Regions from separate parts of the Homo sapiens genome. Here region 1 is linked to region 2. The links come from fine-mapping of genetic effects on gene expression. A gene starts in region 2. The other region holds a variant in brackets. All regions are shown on one strand. Distances are from middle to middle. Region 1 overlaps NUCB1 (nucleobindin 1). Region 2 holds the start of NUCB1 (nucleobindin 1).

Region 1 (10,048 bases), 27 kb before region 2:
CCCAGTTTCAAGCAATTCTCCTACCTCAGCCTCCCGAGTAGCTGGGATGACAGGCGCCCACTACCACGCCCGACTAATTTTTGTATTTTTACTAGAGATGGGGTTTCACTGTGTTGGCCAGGCTGGCCTCGAATTCCTGACCTCAGGTGATCCGCCTGCCTTGGCCTCCCAAAGTGCTGAGATTACCTGCATGAGCCACCATGCCCAGCAATTTTTTGTACAGAAAAGGTCTCACTTTGTTGTCCAGGCTGGTCTCCAATTCCTGGGCTCAAGCAATCCTCCTGCCTCAGCCTCCCAAAGTGCTGGGATTATAGGTATGAGACACTGTGTCCAGTCGATTTTTAAACTTTTTATCAAGGCAGGGTCTTGCCAAGTTTCCCAGGCTGGTTGGGACATGATAATTCCTAACTGGCTGGCCAGCTTCACACAGGGCAGGATATTGTCACTTTCTCTTACTTGGTAGACAATAATTAAGACCTGAGTGTCACACATGGATTCACAGACTTCAAGTTTACACAAACTGCTGAATAGAAACACAAATGGGACCAGGCACGGTGGTTCACGCCTGTAATCCCAGTACTGTGGGAGGCCCAAATGGGAGGAATGCTTGAAGCCAGGACTTTGAGACCAGCCTGGGCAACAAAGCAAGACCCCATCTCTACCAAAAAAAAAAAGTGGGGGGAGGGGGCAGGGCATAGTGGCTCATGCCTGTAATCCTAGCACTTTGGGAGGCCGTGGTGGGCGGATCACTTAAGGTCAGGAGTTCGAAACCAGCCTGGCAAACATGGTGAAACCCCCATCTCTACTAAAAATACAAAATAATTAGCCAAGCATGGTGGCGGACGCCTGCAATCCCAGCTTCTTGGGAGGCTGAGGCAGGTAAATTGCTTGAACCTGGGAGGAGGAGGTTGCAGTGAGCCAAGATCGCACCACTGCTCTCCAGCCCGGGTGACAGAGAGAGACTCTGTCTCAAAAAAAAAAAAAAAAAAAAAAAAAGGTTTAGGGGGAGGGAAATCCACATAGGACACAATATCATTACTATGAAGAAAAAGAAAAAATCATTTAATAATAAATATCAAAAAATAATTTTGATACTCCCAGGTATTTGTCCTAGAAAGAAAAAATAACATGTTTGCACACAAACCAGTGCACAGGTGTTAGCAGCTGTACATAGCTCAAGCCCAAATGTCCTTTAAGCTGCCAGTGGATTCAACAAAATACTACTCAGCGGCCAGGCACAGTGGCTCACACCTGTAATCCCAGCACTTTGGGAGGCCAAGATGGGTGGATCACCAGGTCAGGAGATCAAGACCATCCTGGCTAACACGGTGAAACCCCATCTCTACTAAAAATACAAAAAATTAGCCAGGCGTGGTGGCGGGCACCTGTAGTCTGGAGGCTGAGGCAGGAGAGTGGCGTGAGCCTGGGAGGCAGAGGTTACAGTGAGCCGAGATCACACCACTGCACCCCAGCCTGGGCAACAGAGGAAGACCCGGTCTAAAAAAAAAAATATATATATATAATATATATATATATTTTTTTTTTGAGATGAAGGTTTGCTCTGTCACCCAGGCTGGAGTGCAGTGGTTCGATCTCAGCTCACTGCAAGCTCTGCCTCCCGGGTTCACGCCATTCTCCTGCCTCAGCCTCCCAAGTAACTGGGACTACAGGCGCCCACCACCACGCCTGGCTAATTTTTTGTATTTTTAGTAGAGACAGGGTTTCACTGTGTTAGCCAGGATGGTCTTGATCTCCTGACCTCGTGATCCGCCCTCCTCGGCCTCCCAAAGTGCTGGGATTACAGGCGTGAGCCACTGCGCCCGGCCTAAAATTATTACTTTCTTATTGCTGCACTCCAGCACCTCAGAGGAGGCAAAAAGGTAAACACTGAAAAGAAAATATGCCGGGCACGGTGGCACATGCCTGTAATCCCAGCACTTTGGGAGACTGTGGCGGGCAGATCTCTTGAGCCCAAGAGTTCGAGACCAACCTGCAAAAAATTAGCCAGGTGTGGTGGTGTGCATCTGTATTCCCAGCTACTAGGGAGGCTGAAGCGGGAGGATCGCTTGAGCTGGGAAGGTTGAGGCTGCAGTAAGCTATGATGGCACCTCTGTACTCCAGCCTGGGCAACAGAGTGAGACTCTGTCTCAAAAAAGAAAAAAGAGGGCGGGCGTAGTGGCTCACGCCTGTAATCCCAGCACTTTGGGAGGCCGAGGCGGGCGGATCACCTGAGGTCAAGAGTTTGAGACCAGCCTGGCCAACAGGGTGAAACCCCATCTCTACTAAAAATACAAAAATTAGCTGGGCGTGGTGGTGTGCACCTGTAATCCCAGCTACTTGGGAGGCTGAGGCACTGGAATCGCTTGAACCCAGGAGGCAGAGCTTGCAGTGAGCCGAGATCACGCCACTGCACTCTAGCCCGGGCAACAGAGTGAGACTCTGTTGCCCAGGAAAAAAAAGAAAAAAAAAAAAAAGAAAAAGAAAAAAGAAGAAAAAGAAAATGCTGTGGGGCGCTGCCATGTGGAAAGACATTTGGGAAAGGCTAAAAGAACCCACTGCACACTTAATGGTATATCACATGTCAGTACCCGGTCAGACTCGCCTCTGGTAACATGGAGGTAGACACTCTAGCAAGAATTAGAACACTGGGTCCCTCACAATCCTCAAGGGCTTGGAGCAACTCAGTATTGTGTATAGACTGCAGATTTCCCTTACCATATAATCTTCAAGTGGCAGGATTGATTAAAAAGAAAAATGGCCAGGCGCGGTGGCTTACGCTTGTAATCCCAGCACTTTGGGAGGCCGAGGTGGTCGGATCACGAGGACAGGAGATCAAGACCATCCTGGCTAACACAGTGAAACCCCATCTCTACTAAAAATACAAAAAATTAGCCGGGCATGGTGGCGGGCGCCTGTAGTCCCAGCTACTCAGGAGGCTGAGGCAGGAGGATGGCGTGAACCCGGGAGGCAGAGCTTGCAGTGAGCCGAGATCACGCCACTGCACTCCAGCCTGGGTGACACAGCAAGACTCTGCCTCAAAAAAAAAAAGAAAGAAAGAAAGAAAGAAAAATGGCATTTAAAAAAATTTTTTTGCAGGTTTTATTTATTTATTTATTTATTTGAGACAAAGTCTGGCTCTGTTGCTCCAGCCTGGGTGACAGCGCCACACTCCGTCTCAAAAAAAAAACAGAAAATAAAATTTTTTTTTGTAGAGATGGTGTCTCACCATGTTGCCTAGGCTGGCCTCCAACTCTTGGGCTGAAGTGATCCTCCCACCTCGGCCTCCCAAAGCACTAGGCATGAGCCACCAAGCCTGGCCCAACTATCCATTATGCATAGTTGTAAAGCAAGTCTGGCCAGACGCATTTATACTGGAGCTGATAAAAGGCCAATGGTAAACACTATTTAGGATTTCCCAGAATCTTGAGCCAAGGGGAGGGGTTGGACTGGCAAATTCCCCAGACTGGATAGGGTGTTTCTTGTCAGAGGGCAAGAATTTCTCGGGCAGCTGCAGTGGTCTCCCTTGATCCTCTTGGGGTTGGGGCCAAAACAATCCACTTACCCCTACACTAGAACATGGTCCCTTTTTTTTTTTTTTTTTTTTTGGACGGAGTCTTGCTCTGTCACCCAGGCTGGAGTGCAGTGACACAATTTCAGCTCACTGCAACTTCCGCCTCCTGGGTTCAAGCGATTCTCCTGCCTCATGAGTAGCTGGGATTACAGGCGCCCATCACCACACCCAGCTAATTTTGTATTTTTAGTAGAAATGCGGTTTTACCATGTTGGCCGGGCTGGTCTCGAACTCGTGACCTCAAGTGATCCACCTGCTGCGGCCTCCCAAATTGCTGGGTTATAAGCGTGAGCCATTGTTCACAGGCTGAGTGACGTAGTTTAATGTTATTTATTTATTTATTTTTTAAGACGGAGTTTTGCTTTTGTTGTCCAGGCTGGAGTGCAATGGCGTGATCTCGGCTCACCGCAACCTCCACCTCCTGGGTTCAAGCGATTCTCCTGCCTCAGCCTCCTGAGCAGCTGGGATTACAGGCATGCGCCACCAGGCCCGGGTAATTTTGTATTTTCAGTAGAGACGGGGTTTCTCAACGTAGGTCAGGCTGGTCTCAGACTCCTGACCTCGGGTGATTCGCCTGCCTCAGCATCCCAAAGTGCTGAGATTACAGGCGTGAGCCACCGCGCCCAGCCTCGTGACTTTATTTTAAAATGCTACTCTGCCATGTGATTTTTTTCCTTTTTTAAGAGACGGGGTTTGTAATCTCAGCTACTTGGGAGGCTGAGGCAGGAGAATTGCTTGAACCCGGGAGGTGGAGGTTGCAGTGAGCCGAGACTGTGCCATTGCACTCCAGCCTGGGGGACACAGCAAGACTCCGTATCAAAAAAAAAAAAAAAAGAAAAAGAAAGAAACAGGGTTGGCTGGGCGTGGTGGCTCATGCCTATAATCCCAGCACTTTGGGAGGCAGAGGAGGGCAGATCACCTGAGGACAGGAGTTTGAGACCGGCCTGGCCAACATGGCGAAACCCTGTCTCTACTAAAAATACAAAAATTAGCTGGGCGTGGTGGGCGCCTGTAATCCCAGTTACTCAGGAGGCTGAGGCAGGAGAATCACTTGAACCCGGGAGGCGGAGGTTGCAGTGAGCCGAGATCGAGCCACCGGCAACAAGAGTGAGACTCTGTCTCAAAAAAAAAAAAAAAGAGACGGGGTTTCACTATGTTGCTCAGGCTGGTTTCAAACTCTTGGGCTCGAACGGTCTTCCTGCCTCAGCCTCCCAAAATGCTGGCATTATAGGCATGAGCCACTGCACCCAGCCTGCCGTGTGACTTCTGACTAACCCGAAACTGGGAATGCCTCCAACATGTCTAACGGATGTGTTACTCTTTATGTAGAAACACGTACTTACCAGCCTTTCCTCCAGAACAAGCCTTGATGTTGTCACATCCATCACAAGATGTATCGCCCATAGCCACCTACGCGTTTCTTCCAGAGCACAGATATGCTTTCCTCGAGATAGAAGCCCTGTGTCTGGGGGTTGCAGGGTGTGATCTATCTGTCTTGCTGCTGCCCAAGACCACACTTCTTTTTTTTTTTTTTCCAGACAGGGTCTTGCTTTGTAGCCCAGGCTGGAGTGCAGTGGCGTGAGCTCGGCTCACTGCAGTCTCCACCTCCCGGGTTCAAGTGATTCTCCTGCCTCAACCTCTCCAGTAGCTGGGATTACAGGCGCCCACCACCACACCTGGCTAATTTTTGTATTTTTAGTGGAGACAAGTTTCACCATGTCAGTCAGGCTGGTCTCGAACTCCTGACCCCAAGTGAGCCACCTGCCTCGGCCTCCCAAAGTGCTGGGATTCCAGGCATAAGCCACCATGCCTGGCGAAGACCACACTCTAAGTTTCCCCCTAATAAACCACCCTGTATTGACAAACTAGATGGGTCGGCCTCATTCTTTGGTTTCTTGGCTCCTTCGGCATTTGGGGACCGCTTTGCCTATATGAACCTTTCAAAGAACACCATTTAGGCCCGTTTTCCAGATTGGGTCACTGAAGCTCAACTCCCCTCATTTTCTGAGAGAGGCAAAGAGAGGCTGCAGCTGATGTTTGCTATGCTCATTGTTCAGGTGCAGCTGGGAGGGCATGACACACATATAGCTTCCCAGGACATTCCAGGATCTGGGAATATGTATTTTTGTTTTGTTTTGTTCTGAGACAGAGTCCCGCTTGGTCACCCAGGCTGATGTGCAGCGTTGCAATCACCGCTTCCCAGGCCCAAGCGATCCTTTCACCTCAGCCTCCCAAGTAGCTGGGACTACAGGCATGTGCCACCACACCCAGCTAATTTTTTTTTTTTTCTTGAGATGGAGTCTTGCTCTGTCACCCAGGCTGGAGTACAGTAGTGTGATCTTGGCTCACTGCAACCTCTGCCTCCCAGGTTCAAGTGATTCTTGTGCCTCAGCCTCCCTGAGTAGCTGGGATTACAGGTGTACACCACCACGCCCGGCTAATTTTGGTATTTTTTTGTAGAGACGGGGTTTCACGTTGCCCAGGCTGGGCTTGAATTCCTGCCCTCAAGTGATCCGCCCACATCAGCCTCCCAAAGTGCTGGGATTATAGTTGTGAGTGACTGCGCCTGGCCCTATTTATTTATTTTTTTACATAGAGATGGGGTCTCCCTATATTGCCCAGGTTGGCCTCAAACTCCTGGGCTCAAAGGATCCTTCCTCCTTGGCCTCCTGAAGCGTTGGGATTATAGGCATCAGCCACTGTGCCCGGCCTATTTATTTTTCTCGAGAAAGGGTCTTGCCCTGTCTCCCAGGCTGGAGTGCAGTGGCGTGGTCATGGCTCACTGTAGCCTTAACCTTCTGTGGCCAAGCGATTCTTCTGTCCTTAAGCCTCCTGAGTAGCTGGGACCACAGGTGCATGCCACAACACCCGGCTAATTTTTTTTTTTTTTTTTTTTTTTTTTTTAGAGATGAGGTCTTGCTATGTTGCTCAGGCTGGTCTTGAGCTCTGAGCTTGAGTCATCCTCCTGTCATCCTCTCCTGAAA[C/A]CCCCCACCCTGCCCATCCCTGGCCTCCAAAGTGCTGAGCTTATAGGCATGAACCACTGTGCCTGGCCAGAATTTCATTTAAACAAATACTCCTGGCCGGGCGTGGTGGCTCAGGCCTGTAATCCCAACACTGTGGGAGGCCGAGGCGGGGGGATCACCTGAGGTCAGGAGTTCTCAAGACCAGCCTGACCAACATGGTGAAAGCCCCATCTCTACTAAAAATACAGAAAAATTAGCCGGGTGTGTGCTGGGCACCTGTAATCCCAGCTACTCAGGAGACTGAGGCAGGAGAATCGCTTGAACCCAGGAGGCAGAGGTTGCAGTAAACCGAGATCGCGTCATCGTACTCCAGCCTGGGAGACAGAGCAAGACTCTGTCTCCAAAAACAAAACAAAACAAAAACAAATATTCCCCGCTTGCTTTTTACCAGACCCCAACTTGGTCCAAGGAAAGCATCCCCATCCCAGGTGAGGATGAAATCACCACTGGTGGATGCCAGCTTGGTGGATCTGTCTGCAGCTGTCACTGACCTGTGCCTCACAGCCAGTGGGATATAAGGGAACATGAGGAGAGGGCTGAAAGGAGAGGGAACTCTGGGGACAGATTTTCTCCCACTTAACAATGCCCAGAACAGAATGCGGCCTCTTCCTTCACTGGCTGTTGGTGACATCTGGAGCAGCTGCAGCTACCTTGGGACCATGAGGGGGGGTCCAGCCCCCAAACCTATCCTTGGCACAGCTAGGGGATGCGAGAACCTGGTTCCCTGAAGTCATCCTGCCTTGGGACATCTTGGTTTTTATCATAATTCATTTTTATTTATTCTTTTTTCTATTAGAGACAGGGCCTCATTCTGTCACCCAGCCTGGAGTGCAGTGGAGTGATAGATCATGGCTCACTGCAGCCTCAAACTCCAGGGCTCAAGGGATCCTCCCACACCAGCCTCCTAAGCAGCTGAGACTACAGGCACACACTACCATGCCCAGCTAATTTTTTTTCTTTTTCTGAGACGGGGTCTCGCTATGTTGCCCAGGCTGGTCTCAAACTCCTAAGCTCAAGTGATCCTCTTGCCTCAGCCTTCTTTTTTTCAGACAGAGTCTCGCTCTGTCACCCAGGCTGGAGTGCAGTGGCATGATCTCGGCTCACTGCAACCTCTGCCTCCTGGGTTCAAGCAATTCTCCTGCCTCAGCCTCCTGAGTAGCTGGGACTACAGGTGCCTGCCACCACGCCCAGCTAATTTTTTTAGTATTTTTAGTAGAGAAAGGGTTTCACCGTGTTAGCCGGGATGGTCTCCATCTCCTGACCTCGTGATCTATCCGCCTCTGCCTTCTAAAGTGCTGGGACTACAGGTGGAGCCACCATACCTGGTACATTCTTTTTTTTTTTTTTGAGATGGAATCTTGCTCTGGTACTCCGGTTGGAGTGCAGTGGTGCAATCTTGGCTCGCTGCAACCTCCGCCTCCCAGGATCAAGCAATTCTCTTGCCTCAGCCTCCCGAGTAGCTGGGATTACAAGTGCCCACCACCACACCCGGCTCATCTTTGTATTTTTAGTAGAGATGGGGTTTTGCCATGTTGACCAGGCTGGTCTTGAACTCCTGGCCTCAAGTGATCCCCCCTATCTTGGCCTTTCGAAGTGTTGGGATTACAGGCGTGAGCCACAGCACCTGGCCAAATTCATCTTTTAAAAGTTGCTTAATCCCGGCCAGGTGCAGTGGCTCACTCCTGTAATCCCAGCACTTTGGGAGGCTAAGGTGGGCAGATCATGATGTCAGGAGTTCAAGACCAGCCTGGCCAATATGGTGAAACCCCCATCACTACTAAAACAATGCAAAAATTAGAAGGCCGGGCGTGGTGGCAGGCAGCTGTAATCCCAGCTACTCGGGAGGCGGAGGCAGGAGAATCGCTTGATCCCAAAAGGCAGAGGTTGCAGTGAGCTGAGATTACACCACTGCCCTCCAGCCTGGGTGACAGAGTAAGACTCCATCTCAAAAAAAAAAAAAAAAAAAATTGCTTAATCCCAGGTTTGGGTTTTCTGTCCTTGTGGCTGAAGGGACCCTGAGTGAAGGCTGCAGACTCATCAGGGGCAGATGGAAAAATACCAGGATTGAGCCTCTCAGAAGTGATGCTTGAATCCAGTCTTCAAAGATGAGGACTCCGGCAGGTGACGTGGCAATAGCGTTTTGGAGGGACCAGTCCAGATACACAGGCATGGAGCCATGCATTTGTTCCAGAAAGTGTATTTGGATGGAACCGGAACATGGAACAGGACACACAGCAGGATGCGGAGCAGTGTCAGATGAGGCCAGAAAGGTGGGTGGGACTGGTCTTCAGGGGCTCCAGATGAGGCTGAGGGGCTGGGCCTAGGTCCTGGAGTGGGGTCAGCTCTGGGACCCTTCTGGGGCTGTGTGGGGAAGGGGCTGGGGGCCAAGAGGTCCAGGAGGAGGCTGGCGATGAGATGGCTGGAAGCCAGGGGTTCAGGGAGGCCCAGGCTCCTGGTATCAGGGTTCACCGGCTATACTGAGGATCCCCTGCCCCTGGCACCCAGCTGTGGAGGGGACACTGTCTTTGAGGCATCACTGGTTCCACAAAAGGTAGGGGAAGGTCTTGAGGGACCACCCCATGCCCTCATTAATCAACCAGAAGCTTGGCCCGGAGCAGCAGCGGGGATTCCAGTAGCTGTGGGCATACAGGATGCTAGGGCGGCCACAACCCAGGCAGCTGAGGCCGAGCCACCTAGGAACGCAGGCTCAGAGCAGACCCTCTTGGGACAGACGGAGAAGGGGAGGGGGCGGGCTTCTCTAAGTTAAGCCGATCACTGAGCACCTCACTGGACACGAGAGAAGGCAAGCCCCTCGGAGGACAGAAGGGAAGAGCCACAGACTTGGAGGCTGTGAAAGTGGAGACAGGTGGACCTGGGGTGGCAGCAATGCGTGAAATGCCAGGCCGTGCCCCCGCCCCAGGAGCCCAACATGACACCAGCCCCCAGGGAAGCTGACTGTGCCACTTCATCCAGCGCCCATCAGTCGCCTTGGAGCATCAGGAATCCTGAGGGCTGGGGTCCCGGAGGATCACAGATGCTGGGGCACCTCAACCTCAGGGAGCCGCTCGAGAAGTTTCTTTTCTGAAGTGTCCACCTCCTTCTGGTCACCGGCTGGAGCTGGGACAGGTACATCGTCTGGAAATGGAGGGAGGGAATGGTGGCACAGGACATCCGAACCCCTCCTCCCCCAGGACCCCAGAGGCCCAGCCCCTCCTCCCTCACACCCAGGGGTCCAGCCCCCAGCCCCTCCTCCCTCACACCCAGGGGTCCAGCCCCCAGCCCCTCCTCACTCACACCCAGGGGTCCCAGCCCCTCCTCCCTCACACCCAGGGGTCCCAGCCCCCAGCCCCTCCTCCCTCAGACCCAGGAGTCCGGACCCCCAGTCCCTCTTCCCTCAGATCTGGGAGTCTGGGCCCCCAGTCCCTCTTCCCTCAGATCTGGGAGTCCAGGCCCA
Region 2 (10,272 bases):
GGACACCAGCACCTCCCTTATTTTGAATTCTTCCTCTGTAGAAGGCACCATAGGAGCATTCTGTTGACGCAGCCCTCCCACAACACTTGCTAAGGAGTGTCACCATGCTCTTCCAAACCCTTTACACATCTTCCTTTGGAAAATCCAAACCCCAAAATCCTTCCCTTGGAAAATCCAAATCCGAACTGTGCAGCAGGTTCTATGATGTCTCCCATTTTACAGGTGGGGAAACTGAGGCACGGTGAGGGGAGGCCCCATAGCTGGTAAGCGGCGGAGCTGCGACTGAAAGCCTGCCCACGGGACTCTGCACTAAACACGTATTCTGTGTTCCCCAAAGCTCTTCCCAGCTTGTGACCCCAAGAAGCAACTTCTCCCTGAGTCTTACTTTGGTGATTTTCAAATACAGGCACAGCTGGAGCCATGTGGCCCCTTTGAAGAAACCAGTATGGTCAGGCATGGTGGCTCATGCCTGTAATCCCAACACTTTGGGAAGCCGAGATGGGAGGATCACGAGGTCAGGAGTTCGAGACCAGCCTGGCCAACATGGTGAAACCCCGTCTCTACTAAAAATACAAAAATTAGTCAGGCATGGTGGTGTACGCCTGTAATCCCAGCTACTTGGGAGGTTGAGGCAGGAGAACTGCTTGAACCTGCGGGGTGGAGGTGCAGTGAGCTGAGATCGCACCATCGCACTCCAGCCTGGGTGACAGAGCAAGACTCCGTCTCAAAAAAAAAAAAAAAGAAACCAGTCCTCCCCTGAACTCTGCCCTCCCAGCACGTACCCCTCCCACAGCCCCCACTCCCCCAGCCGCACCTTGATGTCCTCCGCATTGGCAGCCTGCAGCTTCTCTCGGAAATGCCCATCCGTCTCCAGTACATCGATGACCTCCTGGAGGTACCGGTGGTAGTACAGGCCTGTGTCCTGAGGCAACAAGGACAGACATAGCAGCCCCTGCTCCCATCCCCATCCCCACCCTCACTCCTGTTACTGCTATGGCCTGCTCCCTGGGGCAGCTGACAAGGGACTCAGTTTTTACCTTTTCCCACATATGCAGCAAAGATGAAATGAAAATCACATCAGTGAACACCCAGCCCAATACTGCCCAGAGTGGGTGCTCAGAGTGGACATGACTTGTTGGGAAGCTGTGAATCATACTTTTATCCATCCATCCAACCATCCATCCATCCATGCATCCACCCATTCATCCATGCATCCACCCACCCATCCATCCATACATCCCACCCACCCATCCATACATACATCCTACCCACCCATCTATCCACCCATCATCCATCCATCCATCCACCCATCCATCCACTCATCCATCCATCCACCCACCCACCCATCCATCCATCCATCCACCCATCCATCCATCCACCCACCCATCCATCCATCCATCCATCCATCCACTCATCCATCCATCCATCCACTCATCCACCTGCCCATCCATCCACCCACCTATCCATCCATCCATCCATCTATCCATCCATCCATCCACTCATCCACCCACCCATCCATCCACCCGCCCATCCATCCACTCATCCATCCATCCACCCACCCATCCATCCATCCACCCACCCATCCATCCATCCACTCATCCACCCACCCATCCATCCACCCGCCCATCCATCCAACCACCCGTCCATCCATCCATCCACTCATCCACCCACCCATCCATCCACCCGCCCATCCATCCACTCATCCATCCATCCACCCACCCATCGATCCATCCACCCACCCATCCATCCATCCACTCATCCACCCACCCATCCATCCACCCGCCCATCCATCCACCCGCCCATCCATCCAACCACCCATCCATCCATCCATCCACTCATCCACCCACCCATCCATCCACCCGCCCATCCATCCAACTGCCCATCCATCTACCCACCCGCCCATGCATGCATTCATTCATTCAACAAACATTCACCAGGCCCCTATCATATGCCAGGCACTGTGAACAACACAGACAAAAGTCCCAGGCCTCCTAGTCCCACCCCCGTCATGCGTAGCTGGGTGGGACTTTACTCTCCCTGGGCCTTCTATGCTCTTACTATTTATAAAATAGGCAATATATCCTCTGCCTCCCAGAGTTGTGGTGAAAAGCAAATAAGATAAGTTGGAAAAAATAAATAAATAAAATTACAAAAGAGAGAAGGCCAGGCATGGTAGCTCATGCCTGTAATCCCAGTGCTTTGGGAGGCTGAGGTAGGAGGATCACTTGAGCCCAGGAGTTCAAGGCTGCAGTGAGGTATGATCCTGCCACTGCGCTTCAGCCTGGGCACCAGCACAAGACCCTGTCTATTAAACATATATATATATATATACATTCTTTACCTCTTTACCTAGTCTCACAAGATCCCACATGATCCACATAATCCCCCTCTCCCCTCCCTCTCACTCTCCCTGCTCCAGCCACAGCAGCCTCCTTGACGTCCTCAACTTGCTCTGCTTTCTCCTACCAAGTGGCCTTTGCTCATGCTGTTCCCTCTGCCTGGAATGCTCTTCCCCTCACTTCCTCTCTTCCTTGCTCTTGACTTAACATATCTCTCCAGTTCAGAACTCAGTGGCTCACACCTATTATCCCAGCACTTTGGGAGGCCGAGGCGGGCAAATCACTTGAACTCAGGAGTTCGAGACTAGCCTGGGCAGTATAATGACACCCTGTCTCTATCAAAAATACAAAAAAAATTAGCTAGGCATGGTGGCACATGCCTGCAGTCCCAGCTACTCCAGAGGCTGAGGCAGGAGGATCGCTTGAGTCTGGGAGATGGAGATTGCAGTGATTGCACCACTGCACTCCAGCTTGGGTGACACAGCAAAAATAAAAAAAAAAAAAAAAAAGAAAAAGGAAAAGAAAAAATGAGGTGGCTCATGCCTGTAATCCCACCACTTTGGGAGGCCGAGGCAGGCAGATCAAGAGGTCAAGAGATCGAGACCATCCTGGCCAACATGGTGAAACTCCGTCTCTACTAAAAATACAAAAATTAGATGGGCGTGGTGGTGTGCGCCTGTAGTCCCAGCTACTCGGGAGGCTGAGGCAGGAGAATCACCTGAACCTGGGAGGCAGAGGTTGCAGTGAGCCAAGATTGCACCACTGCACTCCAGCCTGGTGACAGAGCGAGAAAGAAAGAAAGAACTCAACTCACGCCTCCCTTCCTCCCTGACTGTCACCCCTGGTGTTCACTCTCATAGAGCCCTGCCCTTTGTCTTCCATCTCCCAGTGAGCAGGGATAGTCCATGGGCATGGGGCATGCACATGGCTGGGCCCTAACAACTATGCAACACATAGGCAACACTATGCCCGGCTCATAGAAGGTGCTCAGGAAACATGTGGAATGGAAGAAAAGAAATGGGACTCAACAAAGCCTTCCTGGGTCTGCAAGGATTTCACAGAATAGAGGCCTAACTTGCAGCGTGGGGACCAGGAACATGCAATGATCCGTTCCAGGGGGTAATGACTAGCCCATTCTTTGTTTTTTGAGACAGTCTCAGAAAACAGAGTCTCAGCTCTGTTGCCCAGGCTGGAGTGCAATGGCGTGACCTTGGCTCACTGCAACCTCCACCTCTCTTGGTTCCAGCACGAGAATTCGTGCCTCAGCCTCCCAGAGTAGCTGGGATTATAGGCGTGAGCCACCACGCCCAGCTAATTTCTGCATTTTTGGTAGAGATGGGGTTTTGCCATGTTGGCCAGGCTGGTCTTGAACTCCTGACCTCAAGTGATCCGCCTGTCTCGGCCTCCCAAAGTGCTAGGATTACAGGCATGAGCCACTGCGCCTGGCCTGACCAGCCTATCCTTATGGGGAGCTATAGGAAGATTCGGACCACAAGACACTCACTGACCTTCAGGATCTCCAAAGTTCCAAATCCCTTAAGACCAAAGCTTTTATTGGGTTTGATAAACACATGTAGGAATTAATAAACAAGCAGTTCACCCGCCCTTCTGTAATTTAAACTACAACTCCCAAGAGCACCATGAAGTCAGAATACCCCAGCTAGCCAACATCAACTGCTACTGGGAACTAGCAACATGGTGCTACTGGGAAATGTAGTTTTGTTTGTTTGTTTTCAAATTCCTTCTTGGGTGGAGAGAATCTTAAAAAAACAGACGTTTAGTTGGGGCGTGATGCAGATTTTCCACACCTCAGAGTCAGGGACCTCCAGTTTTTCACCAAGTCAAACCCCTGCTGCTGGGAGGAATGGTGGGCAAAAAACAAGCTACAACTGTAGGGCCAGGAAGTCACTGGAGCATCCGCCCTACGGGCACCGGGGTCTGCAGGAGCTGTAGTACCACTGCAAACACCTGGCTGGATAGCAGGGCAGGGCCACTCACGGGACTCTCAGTCGCAGGGGTCTCCTCCTTGTTGGGCGCCCCTCGCTCCAGGGGGACAGCCAGCACGGCGCGAAGCAGGAGCAGCAGCAGCAGCGGCAACAGAAGGAGGGTTCCTCGGGGCCCAGAGGGAGGCATGGCAGTGTGGTCTGTGGGGGATGGAGGGCTGGATAATGCATAATGTCTGTCCCAAGCCTCTTCCTCCCCTGGAACCAGGAGTTCGGGCCCCCAGCGCCGCCCCCACTTCCAAGAATCAAGACACAAGCATTTTGTTACCCAGGCCCCAGGATTCCAGGCCTCCGGCCTTCCCTTCCTCCGACACAGGAGTCTGGGCCCTCAGACCCAGGGGTCCTGGCTCCCAACACGCTCCTCTCTCACACTCAGGAATCCGGGATCTCGGCCGCCTCCTCCCCCAGACCCAAGAGTCCAGGGTCCCAGCCTCCTCTTTTCCCAGGACCTAAAGTACTGGCACCCAGTGCATCCTCCTCCGGGACCCAGTTTTCCAGCCCTCTGGCCCCCATCCTCCCTAGGACCCAAGAGTATGGGAACCCTGGCCTCTCACCTCTCCTTCACCGCAGAGGGCGTTTTCCAGGGCGGGCAAGGACCTCCGGTGCGTTCTTGGTGACTTCCCCCCTAGACCACGCCCACTTATCCACAGAGGCCCCGCCCCAAAGAGGTCTGATTGGTCCACGCTGGCTCTGTAGCTTTCATCCACGTCCAGCGGCCCCGCCCCTTGCCGAAGCCGCTCGCATTTTCGTGAAAGCCTCGCTTCTTTCTCGGAATCCCAGCCTCTTGACGCCACATTTCCCGCCTATGCCAAAAGAGAGAGAAGGCTTTCAAAGATAACTACAACTCCCTGCCGGCCGGGGGAAAAATAACTTCCGCGGGCATCGTGGCCCCTTCGCCTCATGGGAGCTGTAGTTTTCCCATTTATTTTCGCCCCACGAAGTGCCTGGAAGTTATAGCGCGGTAGCAATTGCATAGCCTTTCTTATGAGTTTCTTTCTTCTTCTTCTTATTATTCGAGACAGGGTTTGCTCTGTCACCCAGGTTGGAGTGCAGTGGCGCAATCACTTCTCACTGCAGCCTCTACCTCCCAGGCCCAAGCAATCCTCCCGCGTCAGCCTCCCAAGTAGATGGGACCACAGGCCACACTACCATGCCTGGCTAATGTATATTTTTTAAATTTTTAATACAAATATTTAAATCTTTAATTCTTTTTTAGCCTTTTTTTTTTTTTAACGTTCTGTCTTTCACACTTCTCACACTTTGTTGTTGTTGTTTTTTAAAGAGACGGATGTCAAGCCGGGCTTGGGGGTTCACTCCTGTAATCCCAGCACTTTGGGAGGCTGAGGCAGGCAGATCACCTGAGGTCAAGGGTTTGAGACCAGCCTGGCCAACATGGAGAAACCTCGCCTCCACTAAAAATACAAATTAGCCAGGCGTGGTTGCGCATGCCTGTAATCCCAGCTACTCAGGAAGCTGAGGCAGGACAATCTCTTAAACCCGGGAGGCGGAGGTTGCAGTGAGCCGAGATCGCGCCACTGCACTCCAGCCTGGGCGACAGAGTGAGACTACGTCTCAAAAAAAAAAAAAAATCTCTGTGTTGCTGGTCTGGATCTGGATCTCCTGGACTCAAGCAATCTTGCCTCCCCGTCTCCGCCTCCCAAAGTGCTGGGATTACAGGCGTGAGCCACTGCGCCCCGCCTCTTTTAAGTTTCTTGTAAGCGAGATGTGTACAGTGAGGCCGCGAGGTCTCTGGTCTCCCGCTCTCTCTCTCTCTTTTTTTTTTTTTTTTTGAGACGGTGTCTACCTCTGTCACACAGGCTGGAGTGCAGTGGCGCGATCTCAGCTCACTGCGAGCTCCGCCTCCCGGGTTCACGCCATTCTCCTGCCTCAGCCTCCCGAGTAGCTGGGACTACAGGCGCCCGCCCGCCACAACGCCCGGCTAATTTTTTTGTGTATATATATATATTTTTTTTTAGTAGAGACGGGGATTCACCATGTTAGCCAGGATGGTCTAGATCTCCTGACCCCGTGATCCGCCCGCCTCGGCCTCCCAAAGTGCTGGGATTACAGGCGTGAGCCACCGCGCCGGGCCGGTCTCTGGTCTCTTTAAGGAACCCCCACACGGCATTCGTGTTCAGAACCCCCGGAGCAGGGTTGCCTGGCTGCATCAGTGACCGAGTTCGTTACTTTGTTGGAAGTGGAGAGTGGAGGGTCAGAAGGGAGTGGACCAGTTCAGGTCCCAGAGGGAATCCTCCCTCCCTCTGAGCCGTCTTTCTTCTCCTCCCTATTTCGCAGATATCCCGAGATTAGGTCCCCAGCTTCCAAAGAGAGGATCAGGTATGTTTAGAGATTGGCCAGAGAGGCAAGGTACCGAGGCATCAATGTGAGCAGCCTCTCCAGGCACCTGGTGAGGAGAACAAGTCTCCCGGATCCCAGGCAGGTGGGCAGTGGAGTTCTAGGCCGCTGGGGGCTGGGTGTTTGAAGTGCACAGTCCTGAGTTCTGATGCCTGGGTGCTGGAGAATTAGATATTTGGGGGAGAGAGAAGCGGACTTGCGGACCCCCGTGGGAAGCTGGAAACAGGCTACTAGATCCCGACAGGAGTGGGTGCTGGGATTCGGGCTGCCTGGGTCCGGAAGCAAATTTAAAGGTAAGGATCAGGCCGGGCACTGTGGCTCATGCCTGTAATCCTAGCACTTTGGAAGGCCAAGGCGGGCAGATCACCTGAGGTCAGGAGTCCGGCACCAGCCTGGCCAACATAGTGAAAACCGGTATCTACTAAAATACAAAAAAATTAGGCAGAATAGCGGACGCCTGTAGTCCCAGCTACTCGGGAGGCTGAGGCAGGAGAATCGCTTGAACCCAGGAGGTGGAGGTTGCAGTGGCCGAGATGGCGCCACTGCACTGCAGCCTGGGCGACAGAGCGAGGCTCAGCTGTCTCTAAATACATAAATAAATAAATAAATAAATAAATAAATAAGGCTAAAGATTAGGTGCTGGTGGGCAGGATCCATTGGGATGTTGGTTCTGATCCTGACTCCTCATTCTTGCTTCTGCAGAATGTCTCAGGATAATGACACATTGATGAGAGAGTGAGTAGGGAAACAGATGGGTAGGGGTGGAGGTGGAAAGGGCTGGGGACCCCGTGCACTCGGCTCTGGCTTCATAACCATGTTTGCAGGTTCAGCACCATCGGCCTTGCAGGAAGGGGCTGGGGACCTGGACTCCTGTGTCCTGAAGGGATGGGGCTAGGGTGCAGACTTCTGGGTCTGAAAGAGAAGGGGTTGGGGGCCCCAGACTCCTGAATCCTGAGACAGGAGGGACCTGGGATCTCTGGGTCCCGGCTTCTGTGGGCCAGTGCCAGGAGAAAGGGCCCTATAACTGGTGGAGCAGGCTCAGGTTCTGCACCTCCTGTGACCTCACAGGTGCCCAGAACCCAAGCTGAGATAGGGGCAGGATGGGGGAAGGAGGGACTCTCTTGGGCAACCGAGGTTCCCTGTGCACTGTCACCATGGGCCTGTGTCTCTCTCAGCATCCTGGGGCATGAGCTCGCTGCTATGAGGCTGCAGAAGCTGGAACAGCAGGTATTGTGCCCAGGAATCTCACCACTCCAACTCTTCCGCCTTCTGTGCCTCCCCAGGGGCCTCTCCACCAGGTCTTGCTCTAGGACTCCCAGCCCGTGTTGGCTGTCTCTCATCCTTGAGTTTTCCCACTGAGAAATGAGAAAATAGGAATTTGGGGCCGGGCAGGGCAGCTCACGGCTGTAATCACAGCACTTTGGGATGCTGAGGTGGGCGGATCACTTGAGGTCAGGAGTTCAAGACAAGCCTGGCCAACACGGCGAAACCCCGTCTCTACTAACACACAAAAAATTAGCCAGGTGTGGTGGCAGGCGCCTGTAATCCCAGCTACTCGGGAGGCTGAGGCAGGAGAATCGTTTGAATCCGGGAGGCGGAGGCTGCAGTGAGCGGAGATCGTGGTACTGCACTCCAGCCTGGGCGATAGAGCCAGACTCTGTCTCAAAAAGAAAAAAAAAAAGTAAGAAAGGAAAAAGAAAAGAAAATAGGAATTGGGGGTTCTAAAGAAGCAAACAAACCCTTGTGATGAATTTCTAAGGAACAAGGCTTCTAGAAGGCAGGACTCCTGGGTCCTGGGGGATGAGAGGACAGGGTGTCAGGACTCTTGGATCTGAGTCCAACGGTGGAATAAGGGAGGAGCTGCTGAAGAACTGAGGGCCTGGACGTGTGGGCCCCAGTGGAGGAAGGGGTTCACGAACTCTCGCGCCGATGCGAGCCCTTGCCCCAGGCCCCACCTCACTTCTGTCTTCCCATCTGGTTCCTGTCCCGGACACCCACCTCTCCCATCTCCCCAGCGGCGGCTGTTTGAAAAGAAGCAGCGACAGAAGCGCCAGGAGCTCCTCATGGTTCAGGCCAATCCTGACGCTTCCCCGTGGCTTTGGCGCTCTTGTCTGCGGGAGGAGCGCCTTTTAGGTGACAGAGGTGACCAAAGACCCCTGGGGGCGTTCGCCTGGAGGGGAGGGGCCTGTGGGAGTCTGTGGGCGGGGCCTAGTGGATGAAGGGGTGGAGCCTTAGGGTGGGGACTTGGCAGTGGATGGGGGCGGGCCTTGGCCCAGGAGAGCTTTAGAACAGGGCCTGTGGGCGCCCAGGGGAGAGGCTTGTGGGGGCCCCCCGCGGCAGGACCTGTGAGGGAGGGGTTCGGGGCAGGGCTACAGAGCGCAGGGGCGGGGCATGGTACAACTAGCAGGGGAAAGGGGCAAGAGAATGTGATGATTGGGCTTGGCAGAGCTCGGTGGTGGAGCCTGGGAAAGCCGGGACCCCCACCCCAAACCCGGGATTGCGGAGACGGGGTCTAGGGGTCCGGGGCGGGGCGCGGTCTCATTACGAGAGCCTGGCGCGAGATTCTTTACGTGCGGAGCCCGCAACAATCCAGCGGCAGGGCTGTGCTTGTTTGAGGCTTAGGATGCAGTTTGGGACCTGGGTCTCAAGGTTTGGGCGGTCCGCGAAACAGGGTGATTTTTTTTTCTTTTTTGAGACGGAGTTTAGCTCTTGTTGCCAAAGCTGGAGTACAATGGCAGGATATCGGCTCACCGCAACCTCCGTCTCCCGGGTTCAAGCGATTCTCCTGCCTCAGCCTCCCGAGTAGCTGTGATTACAGGCATGCGCCACCAAGCCCGGCTAATTTTGTGTTTTTAGTAGAGACGGTGTTTCTCCATGTTGGTCAGGCTGGTCTCGAACTCCCGACCTCAGGTGATCCGCCTGCCTCGGCCTCCCAAAGTGCTGGGATTACAGGCGTGAGCCACGGCGCCTGGCGGGGGTGATATTTGGGAGCCCAGTGACGGGGTGGATTTTGGTTGAGGACCGGAATTTGTAGATCGTTTTCATGGGCTCGCTGAACCTTCTCCCAGGCCTTGGGAACCCTTTCCTCCGGAAGAAAGTGTCAGAGGCACATCTGCCCTCTGGCATCCACAGTGCCCTGGGCACCGTGAGCTGTGGTGGAGACGGCAGGGGCGAGCGCGGCCTCCCGACACCGCGGACAGAAGCAGGTATTTGCGAGTCCACCGACCTCCTAGACCCCAGAACTCCGTCCCCACTAAAACCCAGGAGTCTGGTGCCTCAATCCATCTGTCCAAAATACTCAGGAGCTCAGGACCGCACCCACTCCTTCCTCACACCAAGGAGTTCAGGTCCTGAGCCGCCTCCTCCTGCAGCATCCAGAAATCCAACTCTCCCCTCCTTCCTTCCTCAGTGTTCAGGAATCTCGGTCTCCAGTCCCCTTTCTTATCCTGGCTCCCAGACAATTCCGATGCAGAATTGGAGGAAGTCTCCGTGGAGAATGGTTCCGTCTCTCCCCCACCTTTTAAACAGTCTCCGAGAATCCGACGCAAGGGTTGGCAAGCCCACCAACGACCTGG

Evidence for each region.
Region 1: its variant is fine-mapped to the expression of NUCB1 in esophagus mucosa (GTEx, PIP above 0.99).

Annotation. Positions count from the first base shown.
Region 1 is chr19:48,921,999-48,932,046 of GRCh38, reverse strand. NUCB1 (nucleobindin 1) reads right to left here. Exons shown (of 13, transcript NM_006184.6): 13 at 8,675-9,729. The coding sequence ends at 9,623. Among named protein-coding and RNA genes, the nearest start is that of DHDH, 6.7 kb to the left of the region's middle. RefSeq lists a silencer at 4,841-5,135 and an enhancer at 8,812-9,311. The variant C/A (reference allele first, on the strand shown) is at 6,556.
Region 2 is chr19:48,894,997-48,905,268 of GRCh38, reverse strand. NUCB1 (nucleobindin 1) reads right to left here and starts at 4,957. Exons shown (of 13, transcript NM_006184.6): 1 at 4,897-4,957; 2 at 4,338-4,483; 3 at 815-922. The coding sequence starts at 4,472. TULP2 (TUB like protein 2) reads left to right here and starts at 6,525. Exons shown (of 13, transcript NM_003323.3): 1 at 6,525-6,679; 2 at 7,400-7,432; 3 at 7,873-7,924; 4 at 8,713-8,839; 5 at 9,766-9,903; 6 at 10,107-10,271. The coding sequence starts at 7,401. RefSeq lists a cis regulatory region at 5,781-6,780, enhancers at 6,315-7,130, 9,578-10,272 and a silencer at 9,012-9,151.